Linked DNA regions of Homo sapiens. The protein of the gene in region 3 binds, or shares a complex with, the protein of the main gene of each other region. Each region holds a gene or a part of one and is shown on either strand. Other genes may lie near its edges. The genes, in order: HDAC2, EZH2 and RBBP7.

Region 1 (3,747 bases), on a different chromosome or scaffold from region 3:
CTACCAACACCAACTGACAGCTTCGAGAAGGACCTCAGTACCACTTTCCCTAACCAAAATTTTCCTCTTTACTCCAAGCCCTGACAAGGATAAATCTCTAAACTTTAGAAACAATGTAATTTTACAAATTAACTTATACGCAGGGTTACTTCCTTTCCAATTTGATCAGGGAATGCAGGGCAAGAATAACCCAAAATATGCAATGTAAATCATGTTGAAATTAAAATGTATTTCCATCTCCACCCCTCCACGATGGCATAATTTCAAATCAACTTATATAATGCATATCTAGTCCTCTGAAAAATCATTTTTAAAAGTAGGGCTGTTATTATTCTGTCCTAGCTATCGCAGATCAATTTAGATTTGTTCTGTAAGATTTCAGATTTTCCCCAAATGACACAGGTGGTTATTTTATATGTATCAGTCATTAAAAGATTAATCCTTTTTAACTAAAAAGAGACAGTACGGTCATTTACAAGTTAAAGTAGATTTATTCTGAGCTGGTGCTCTGGGGTCTTACTTCTCTAAAATTTTGTGATTTACAATACACCACATGTAGGAAACAGCTTCCAAAATTTGTATTGCTTCCTACAAATCAGACAGGACTTTCAGGAGAAGGAGCCTAGGATAGATTCTCTGTTAAATTTTGGAATCCCTTCTCTCAAGAGTAACCTACTATAAACTATTTACCAAGCCTTTGTGAAATCTGTATAACAGGTTACTACTCCATTGAGCAAGAAAACACAGGAAACAGGATTCGAAGATTTAATGTTACTGCTCATACTCCAAATTATAGAATGCTTAAGATAATTAAATTATCTGACTTTTATAATTCACTACACGGTGACCTCAAATTTACCTCATTAGAATATTTAGTACTTCTGCACTTCTCCCACTTCTCAAAGTTTTCCCATACCAGGATTCCCCACCACCTAGGAACAGCCTTTGCAAGATACCAATGCTCTCTAAATCCCCAAAGCAGGGTCTATTTCCTGATCGAACAAAGAGCAACAAAGAAGTGGGTGGTAACCACCTCTCTGAGGCAAGCCAGGACCCATGGAGTCTGATCTACAACACAAGCAGTAGCAGTTCCACATCTCCCTACCACCTCTTATTTCCTACGAAGTCTTTCTGCCTGAAACTGGAAAACCCGAACTATTATTGAGGAAGTGAAGCCCTTCCATTTGAATCCTGAGAAAGACGCGCTCAAAGAACCCAGCGAACAAAGGAGAGGGTTGGAGCCCACGCAAAACATGGGTGTGATAAAGCCACACGCGACCTGAGCCCCCACCCTCAGTAACTACTCTCCAGCGCCCACCGGGAGGAGGGGTCCGGGGAAAGGGTAAGCCGAGGAAGGAGAAGACGCTCCGGCCAGACCGAACGCAGGGTAGGGGAGGCGAGCAGGCGAGGAGGAGGGAAGGGGACGGGAGGGGCGGAGCTCTCGCGGCCGCGGGGCTTTGTGTAGAGTCAAGGCCGGGATAGAAATTTTGCCTCGCGGGGGACGGGTCGAGGGGGTAGGAGGCCGACGCGGGGCACCCCAAACCTGCGTTGCCACGAATGGTGGGCGGGAGAAGGGAGAGAATGGGCCGCCCCCTTCGCCGCCGCCACCACCAAGGCGGGGTAGGCCGGCGCCGTCCCCAGCGGCGGCCACCTTCGAGGCTGCGGACTGCACGGCCGAAGGGGGAGAGGCAGGAGACAAGACGGGCGGGCCCCCTGATTCCCGCCCGCAGGAACCGCGGGGGCTGCGCCAGGAAGAGGGTCTCGTTCTAACTGTGCCGGGCCGGGAACGGGTTAAGATGCGGCCAAATGTCGGTCCCTCCTCCTTCCCACCCCTCAGCCCCGGCGCCCACTCGCGACGGCAGCCGCGGAACCCAGCGCCCGGCCCCGCGCGCCCACCCCGACACCGGCCCGGCCGCTCACCGTCGTAGTAGTAGCAGACTTTTTTTTTGCCGCCTCCTTGACTGTACGCCATGGGCTCCCCGGCCACCGCCGCCACCGGGCTCCTCCTCCTGCTGCTGCTGCTGCTGCTGCTGCCGCCGCGGCTCGGCCGGGAGAGAAAAGGGCTGAGGGAAACGTGGGGGCGATAGTCCCGCGGGGAAGGGCAGGCCGGTGGGAGGAGAGGAGGGGGCGCCGGGAAGGCTCGGTACCACCCGGCAGAGGTGCCGAAAGCTCGGAATCGGAGGTGGCAGCGGCACCAACTCGCGAGGAGGGGGCCACCAAACCACCTCAGGAGGCCGCAGGGAGGTGAGCGCATCCACTGCGGCCTCCACGGGGGAGGAAGGGGCACGGCTGGAGAAGGAGGCCGTTTCGGGCTCGAGGTTAGAGGCCCTGTTAGGGTGAACAACCTGCGCAAGGCGGCGCCATACACAGTGTTAAAATGAGGAAGAAGACAAGCTTTCGCTGCGCAAGTAGATCCAGGGAGCGTGCAGCCGGGTGGACGTTCTCCCCCTCAGGTCTGCGCGCAGTGGTTGCGCCTGTCCCCGAGCCTGCGCAGTCGGCGCCTCGTAGCCTTGGCGGTCTGGACCCCTCCTCGGCGTCCCACGCTGCTCCCCTCCCCCACTGTCGCGAAGCTCCCGCCCAAGCCGACCACGTGCCGCGAGCCCGGCGGGGAGAGCCCACTCCCGCGCCCCTTCCGGGCCCACTACCCCGCCGGGCTGTGGCCCATCGCCCCAGTGCCTGGTAGCCTAGTTTTCTCGTTTGTCGTTTGTTCACTTATTTATTATTATTATTATTATTTTGACTCGTAATGGGTATGAGGTGTAAGGGGGCCTATTACGGATGTTAAGGGGAGAGGGCACCGCTCGGGTTTTAATAAGCATCTGTGGAGCTCATTTATAAGGTACAGTTCTAAGCACTTGCATTTATAATATATTCCATTGATAATCTATTTATAATATTTAATCTCATTTAAGACTCTCAACAACTCTAGGAGGTAAGTGGCAATTGTACTCCTTCTTTATAGGTGGAGGCAGATTAAGGAACTTGTTCTTACTGCTAACTGATAAGTCTGGAGGTTTGAACTCATTCTGCAAACTCCACGCACCCTAGCTGTTCCACTCTGCAGCAATGCTGCTGGCTAGACACTGGAAGATTGGAGCAGAAAGACTTTCGAAACTCTTGGAGGTTATGAATACAAGTGTTCCTCTGTTAAATAAATCCACATTTATCAAGTACCTACCTTAAGCCAGCCACCTTGCAGGTGAGGGCTGGAGGCTAACAGCCTGTTTTATAGCACCCAATCCCAGTTATATAAAATTGCTATCCCTACCCCCCAAATACACCCCTATTAAAAAAAAAAAAAGGCTGTATTGATGCTGGAATTTAAGAGCCACTACCAAAAATACCCCTTTTAATTTGCTGTTTGACTTCAAAATCCCGAAAGTGTTCATGCTTAAAGCAGCAATTTTCCCCAACCTCACCCCCAAGAGATTTAGAAAAAGTTAAGTCCAGGGTGGCCCCTGCCCTCCCTCCGCCCCCTCCTCTGTATTTTTAACAAGACCCCAGGTGACTGATGAAGTTGCTAGAGAAATTACGGTGAGTGAAACACTGGCCTAGAGGTAAAGTTAATTGACCTTCTAAGTTGTGCTCTATCAAGTACAAAATCAACTTGGAAGATTCTGAGAACAGAATAAGTGAATTTAGTAGAAGTGAATGTTCTTCCCCAGGGCCAACACAATGAAGTCTGAAATGACACTTTGTTTCTTTTGGGAAGACTTCCCTGACCCCTCTCCCGCCAAGACTGTTCTC
Region 2 (3,747 bases), on a different chromosome or scaffold from region 3:
CATTAGATCTTTATCATATAGGACAGTGCAACCAGAAGAACGCCTATGTTTTTCTAACTTGTTTTCTTGGAATATATTCACTTTCCACAAAAACGAGAATTTAAGATGCAGTGTTCCTGTTTCCGGGAAACCTTAAATATTACATCACCCAACACACCTCCGAAAAGAGAGAACAAGACGCTTTATATCTATGACTAGAATCCTACCTATTCCTAACTTTAGAGACCATGAATAGAAAATTAAAATATATCTTAAATACTTGTTTTCCTGCAAATAAAATTACAAATAAACAAGTTAGGATTACACACTTGTACAGTATTCCTAAACATGAATTAGTTGCTAATGCTTATGAAGAGTAATAGAAAATAAACTCCAAAACCCCTAAAAGTATAAACTACATTCAATTGTGACAGCATTCGTGTTTTTCAAAGGTTTATTAAATGCTGTTTTATGATGACATCAAAACGCCACAAAATTAAACTAATAATAACTTGCTTGAACCCTAAAAAGCAAGCCTTTAAGTAAATAGCAAAGACACATTTTTATTTCCAAATGAATTTAAATGTTACAGATCCTGTGTGATAAAGGAAGTTTAACTGTGGACAGCACACGTTAAATTTCTTAGGCAACAAACATTTCTCCATGCAGTCTTTTCTGAATCACCAAAGCTATTGTTCACAGAAAACGAGACCAATTAATAAGAAACTGCTAACCGTATAATCTAAACACACATTTGTCATAGCCATTCTATTTTGATCACCTACTTCTACCACCTCATCCTCATTCAACCCGTCGGGATTTGGGGAATAATCTGGCTGAATGACAGTTGATTTCGTTAGCACCTGTCGCCATTCTCAGATGTATCACACAAGTTGGCCAAAACAGCTTGTAATGTTTAAGGATTACGATTCTTTAGAAAGTGGCAACTCACTAGGCGTTCACCAAGTTTTCCAAAAGATCGTGCTTCTCGATTCCTCCCGCTTTCAAAAAGTAACCCTGTGGCACAGATTTTTGGGGGGAACGGAAGGGGATGTACACAATGAAGTGGGAATTCAACAGGACGCCCTCCAGAAACACAATCAATAGAGAGCAGAGCAGCTCGACTCTTCCCTCAAACTTAGCATAAAGCCAGACCAGGCGGCGAGGGCAGCCCGCGACCGCCGGAGCTCAGGGGGATTTCGGGGTGCGTCGTGGGGAAACGTCAGAGGCGAAGCTACTCCGAGTTCCCCGCCGCGAACGTCGTCCCGCGAGCGCCGCGGCCCCAGCCCGGGGTCGGCGCGCCCGGGACCGGGGGCGTGCGCGAGGCGAGGGCCGAGCCCTGCCCACCCCGGCAGCGGCCCGCGCCTCCCCACGCCCCTCTCCCGCCCGCCGGCGGGCCCGGGTGTCATGCCCCTTCCCCTCGCGCCGAGCCCTCCGGAGACACAGTCCGTCCTTTGTCTGAGTGCGGACTCGGCGGCTGGGTCCCACCAACTTGTGTCTGTCCCGTCCCACCCGGGCGCTCCCGCCGCGGCCGCGCCACACAAAGGAGACTTGAGGCTCGAGCTGCCACCCTGGACCGGGCACCGGAACGCCCCGACCCCGGCCCCGGCGCCCCGGCCAGGACAAGCACCGGGAAAGGAGCCCCCCACACGCCCCCCGCCCCGCAGCTCCAGGGGTGTGCGCTGCCTCACTCGCAGGGTCCCGCGGGCCAGCCCGAAGCTCACAGCTCCTTCCGGGGAGGGGGGCTCTCCCCTCACCCTCCACCCCCCGCACGCCTACAAACGCGGCGCCCCGGTGAGCCCCGCTCGGCGATACCCGGGACCGGCACAGCAGTGGCGGGGAGGTCCTGGCGCCGCCGCCGCCGCCCGGTTCGCACTCCCGGAGCCCCGCCGGCCGGGCCGCCCGCAGCGGCGCGTTACCTTCGTCCCGCGCGCCGACTCGCGTTGTTCCCGCGCGTCGCCCCCGCGCGCCGCCGCCGCCGCCGCCGGGGCTCCACTGCCTTCTGAGTCCCACCGGGTGTCGGACGCGACCGGACCGAGCGCCAAACGCGGCAGCCCAATCGCCATCGCTTTTATTTGGCCCCCCCAGCCCAATCAAGCGCCGCCCCGATTGGCGGGACGCGAGGCGGGCGCCCGTCCAATCACAGGGCCCGCCGGGCTCGGAGGCGCCGAGCCAGCCCCACGCAGAGTGCGCTCAGGGCTCGTGGGCGGGCGGGCACTGGCAGCGCGTGCGCGCGCGGGCGGCGGCGGGGTTCGCTGTAAGGGACGCCACTGGCCGTGTGGAAGCGCCGCCGCCGTCTCTTTGTTCTTTCGCTGAACACACGGCGCCTCTCAGGAAGGCGGTGTGCAGGCACGCGGGGACCGGGAGACATCGCGGGGGCCCGGAGCCCGCCGCGGACGGGAGGCGGGGAGGATAGGTGGCGGGAACCGGCCGAAGGGCGGGACGAAGCGCCGGCGGCTCTTGGCGGGAACCGGCGCCGCAGAGTTCCCGGGCGGGGGAGGGGCGGGGCGGGTGCTGGAAGCCAAGTTTGAACCAGTTCAAAACTCGGGGGTGGTAACGGTTTTAACCGCCGCGCTCGTTTCCCCGCGCGCGGAGCCGAGGCCCGGGCTGGCCGCTCCTAGTGGTGCCCGGGGAGGGGAGGGCGCGGGCCCCGGAGGTCGGCTCAGCTGTGGCGCCGCGTTTGCCGGGAGACGCTCGCCCGGCCCGCGCGCTGCCGCCGGACCCGTTACTACTTTTTTTTTTTTCTCCTGAGACGGAGTTTCGCTCTGGTTGTCCAGGCTGGAGTGCAATGGCGCGATCTCGACTCACCGCAACCTCCGCCTTCCGGGTTCAAGCGATTCTCATGCCTCAGCCTCCCGAGTAGCTGGATTACAGGCATGCGCCACCACGCCCGGCTAATTTTCTATTTTTAGTAGAGACGGGTCTTGGTCAGGCTGGTCTCGAACTCCCGACTTCTGGTGATCCGCCCGCCTCGGCCTCCCAAAGTGCTGGGATTACAGGCGTGAGCCACCGCCGCCGACCCGGGCCCTGTTTGATTATGTCTGCTGCTGCCTTGGCCGTTTTTTCCCCCACCGCTGGACTTTGGCTGGCCGAGCTTGCAGTGCTTATCGCCCTAGAAACCTGTGAAAGGGCGACATTGCTGCCATTTCAGACCCTTCCACTGTTCGTAGTTCTAAGCACGTGTCAGTGTTAAAAATCCTTTATCAAGATGAGCACTGTTCACTTGCCGCCTCTGCAAAGTGTGAGGATATTTGCAAGGCGCGGTGGCTCACGCCTGTAATCCCAGCACTTTGGGAGGCCGAGGCGGGCGGATCATAAGGTCAGGAGATCGAGACCATCCTGGCTAATAACGGTGAAACCCCGTCTCTACTAAAAATACAAAAAATTAGCCGGGCGTGGTGGCGGGCGCCTGTAGTCCCAGCTACTCGGGAGGCTGAGGCAGGAGAATGGCGTGAACCCGGGAGGCGGAGCTTGCAGTGAGCCGAGATCACGCCACTGCACTCCAGCCTGGGCGACAGAGCGAGACTCCATCTCAAAAAAAAAAAAAAAATTGATCTTGGTTATGGGGGGTCAAGCTACCTCAACCCAGAGGAATTAGAGGGATTCTGCTTAGGATACAGTCTCTCCTATTGCTTCATGTGGCAATGCAGTTAAGAGTATTCCGAATTTATTTTTACTAGGATGTATCTATGGGGTAAAATACCATTGTCATGTAAACTGAGATTCCATATTGAGAGTTCATACTGGAAACTGAAAAAAGGTCACCTA
Region 3 (3,747 bases):
TGTTTACTTTCTGGAAATAAGTTAGAGTTGTTCATAATTGAAGTTGCAGAATGAGGAATTATTGTCAATAATAAACATTAACTCAAAATCCCTTCATTAACTGTTTATTGCCTTAGAATTAAAAGGTGAAATGTATAGTTAAAAAAATCTACACATAAACTGATGTGCAATCCCTATACTTCACTCAAAGCCTGTTGCATCCCAGGAGTAAAATATAATTACAAATCAGTACTATAGATCTGTCTAAAGATATGGCAATAAAACTTTGAGAAATGTGTAAGCCAAGGAAATGTTTTTATGGTTTTTCTCTTAAAAACTTCAATTTGTAGAATTTGCCAGTGCTCAACAGTGAAATCACTCTTTATGTATCAATATCAGCCCTGTCCTTATACCTAGCCCAAAGACTTTAGTAGTAACAACTACTAAAAAACAAAACCCAGCCCTCCAAGTGAGACATTTTTTTCCTTCCCACAAAACTAACCAAACAATCTCAAACCTGTGGGATTGCTAGACAATACTTATCTTCCACCTGTCAGTATAGTTGCTAAAACTCACCATTTTAATCCCAAATTTTATCTAATGTAATTTTACAATTTTTTGTAGAGACAGGGTCTATGTTGCCCAGGTTGGTCTCGAACTCCTGGGTTCAAGCGATCCTCCTGCTTCAGCCTCACAAAGTACTGGGATTATAGACATGAGCCGCCATGCCTGGCCCCCTATCTAATGTAATTTTAATATTAAACAAGCTAAGAAATAATTCTAAGAAGAAATTACACACAATGCTCACAAATTATTGGCACCTTCAGGGGCAATTCAGTTGCCAGGGCATCAGACTTCCAAACCTTGCTGTACGCTTCATACAACCTCTTTATAGTTTTGATTTAGGTTTTATTTTACTACTAAAATTGTTTTTAAATCAAATACAATGCCCCCAACTGTCTGCTTTAAAGGTTTTCTACATCTTCAAGTATTTATCACGGCAAGAGTTTGCTCCATCAGAACCCTGAACATTAGCTATTTTAAGTTTTACATACAAGCATTTTATTCTCCAGCGTCTCTTCTATATACTGAGGATTACTGCCTCTATAATTAAGGCAGCCTTGGTTTTAATATATAGGTTGAGCATCCCAAATCCAAAATGTTCCAAAATCCAAAACTTTAAGCACCACGTGACACTCAGAATTTGGACTTTCACACCGAGTGCAATGGCTCATGCCTGTAATCCCAGCACTTTGGGAGGCCAAGGCGGGAGAATCACGTGGGGTCAGGAGTCTGAGACCAGCCTGGCCAATATGGCAAAGCTCTGCCTTTATTTATTTATTTTTTTAGTAAAAAATACAAAACCGGGCATGGTGGCTGTGGCAGTGCTTGTAGACCTGTAGACCCACCTCCTCGGGAAGCTGAGGCATGAGAACTGCTTGAACCTGGGAGGCAGAGGTTACAGTGAGCCAAGATTGCGCCACTGCACTCCAGCCTGCGTGACAGAGCAAGATTCAGTCTCCAAAAAAAAAAAAAGAAAAGAAAAGAAAAGAAAAAGAAGAAGAATTTGGACTTTCAGTTCAGATTTGAGATGCTCAACCAATAAAGTATAATGCAAATATTCCAAAATCCTAAAAATTCCAAAACCCCAAACACTTCTTATTCCAAGTATTTTGGATAAGGGATATTCAACCTGTACTAAATTCAGTCCACTTCAAAGCAATATATTTAATACAAGCAGGAAATAAGTTATTTTTTGGTAATTTTATGATTTAAACTTAAGATGACATCTTACGGAGGAGTATGTAACTGAGCAACTTTATTAAGTTCTAAAGGCTCAGATGAACAAGTAAAGGAGTCTAAAATTCTTAGAACAGCAAGTCTGAACTAAAGGAACTTTAAAAATTGGCAGAAACTCTTTATACAATGAGGCCCCAGAGAACATAAGCTCTCTGACAGCTTGGGCTGTCCTTGTCCCCTTCACAAAGGTCTCCCCAGCAGTTACACAACCCACAGCAGGAGTGCACATCTGCAGAATGAATCACTGAAAGCAAAGTAAATGGTACAAAAACCCAGAAAAAACAGTCCTGCCTACACGTACTGAGATCCAATGAGACATAAAACAGCTAACATCTTGATTTCTCTATATCAAGTGTGTTTTAAATACAGTCATTTGAATGCAAAAACAAAAACAGACACATACACCTTCATGCCTGAATATTAAGAGACAAAACTCACACTAGAGAAATTTATTTTATGGTCCATTTGCTGCTTCACTTCTATTTTACAGAACAAAGGCTCTTTAGGAAGATGCTTAGAAGTTTCTTTAATATTAGGTTTCTTGAAGGGGGGATTACCAAATTGCTTTTCTAGTTTATGAATGACTATGTAACTTGCCAGATAGGCACATTTATGCAGTATCTTGTCACAGGACTGTAAGTTACCTTAAATCCCACACATTCAGGCGGCGGTCAGTACCACTTGAAGCCAGAATAGTTTCATTATGTGGAGACCAGTGGACCTAGTAATAGATAATTTTGAAAATGTATTTAAAGAATCATCCGCTGCTAGGTTTGTGGCTGTTGTTCTAATCTGATATTTTCCCATCTTGCACTCTATTATCTTATCCTTGGCCTGATGGCCTCACTCTCTTGTCCCCGACTTTCAAGTGCTCTGCAAGGGCTCAGCTCCATCCTGTCCTCAGGAAGGCTGCACTCCCCAGCACTGAGGAACTCAGCCTGGGATCTCAATAAATTTATTCGACCCCATAACCATCCCAGAAGCTTTTTAATTCTTCAACAAGGTGTACCTTACCCTATGAGCATCTCCATGTAACACCACGTACAAGACATTTTTTTCAATAGTGGACCCACGAGTCTGGTATAGCTTAACTGATGAATCCCTGGATTTCATTTCCTGACATACAGACACCAGAAAACTGTCACATACCTGGAAAATTTCATCTTTATGAGATTCGAAGGTATGGAGTTTTAATTTTAAGTTACGCAGATCCCATAAAGCTACGGTCTAAAGAAAAATAACAAGTGAAAATGATTTCTATGCTTTACCTAAGAATTTTCAAATATCTGATTAAGGCACAAGAGAACTGGGTTTTATAAACACCAAATAATGCAAAAACTTCGAAACCTTATCCGCAGAGCCGGTGGCTAGAATAAATTCGCTGTAGGGATTGAATGAGAGGCAGTTGACTTCGGCAGTGTGCGCATCCACCAAGTGACTCGGCTTGGAGGTGGTATTGGACCTGGTGTCCCATCTAAAACACAAAGGTAAAGGCACACGGCACCCAGGGATGACACACTCACATTCGGCCTCACATCACTGTCACTGCACTCCACAACTAGCTCCACTATGTGCTCCCCTTCATGAAGAAACCAACCACACAGCTGGTGATTCAGACCTCGACCACTAAATGATACATTCGAAACCTACAGAGAACAAGCTAGGGCTGTTAGTCCTGTTTTTTAAATTAGATTCCTATTTTAATTACCAACTATTTCAAGTGTACACAAAATACAGACTATGTAGAGAATAATGTCACAATCTGATACCTAAAACTAGTTTTGACAAATGCCCAGTATTTTGTCACATTTGCCTCAGGTATTTCTTTATAAGATTATAAGTGAATGAAGCCCTGTGGCCACACCTTGATGAAATCATTTTCCTCCTCGACCTCCAACTGGCATCACTCTGGATCTCAATTTTGATATTTACCACCACACCAAGTATGTTCCTTCACATGTCCATACC

Evidence for each region.
Region 1: RBBP7 (region 3) and HDAC2 share a complex: the UniProt entries of both Homo sapiens proteins name them as parts of the core histone deacetylase (HDAC) complex.
Region 2: RBBP7 (region 3) and EZH2 share a complex: the UniProt entries of both Homo sapiens proteins name them as parts of the PRC2/EED-EZH2 complex.

Annotation. Positions count from the first base shown.
Region 1 is NC_000006.12:113,968,937-113,972,683, forward strand, and holds the start of HDAC2 (histone deacetylase 2), read right to left. Parts: upstream 2,213-3,747; 5' UTR 1,973-2,212; coding exon 1,921-1,972; intron 1,794-1,920; exon of another isoform or gene 1,544-1,793; intron 1,343-1,543; exon of another isoform or gene 765-1,342; intron 1-764. UniProt on the Homo sapiens protein: Histone deacetylase that catalyzes the deacetylation of lysine residues on the N-terminal part of the core histones (H2A, H2B, H3 and H4).
Region 2 is NC_000007.14:148,882,266-148,886,012, forward strand, and holds the start of EZH2 (histone-lysine N-methyltransferase EZH2), read right to left. Parts: upstream 2,027-3,747; 5' UTR 1,899-2,026; exon of another isoform or gene 1,671-1,898; intron 1,221-1,670; exon of another isoform or gene 932-1,220; intron 1-931. UniProt on the Homo sapiens protein: Polycomb group (PcG) protein. Catalytic subunit of the PRC2/EED-EZH2 complex, which methylates 'Lys-9' (H3K9me) and 'Lys-27' (H3K27me) of histone H3, leading to transcriptional repression of the affected target gene.
Region 3 is NC_000023.11:16,849,623-16,853,369, forward strand, and holds part of RBBP7 (histone-binding protein RBBP7), read right to left. Parts: intron 3,254-3,747; coding exon 3,127-3,253; intron 3,007-3,126; coding exon 2,929-3,006; coding exon of another isoform or gene 2,794-2,928; intron 2,501-2,793; coding exon 2,424-2,500; intron 1-2,423. UniProt on the Homo sapiens protein: Core histone-binding subunit that may target chromatin remodeling factors, histone acetyltransferases and histone deacetylases to their histone substrates in a manner that is regulated by nucleosomal DNA.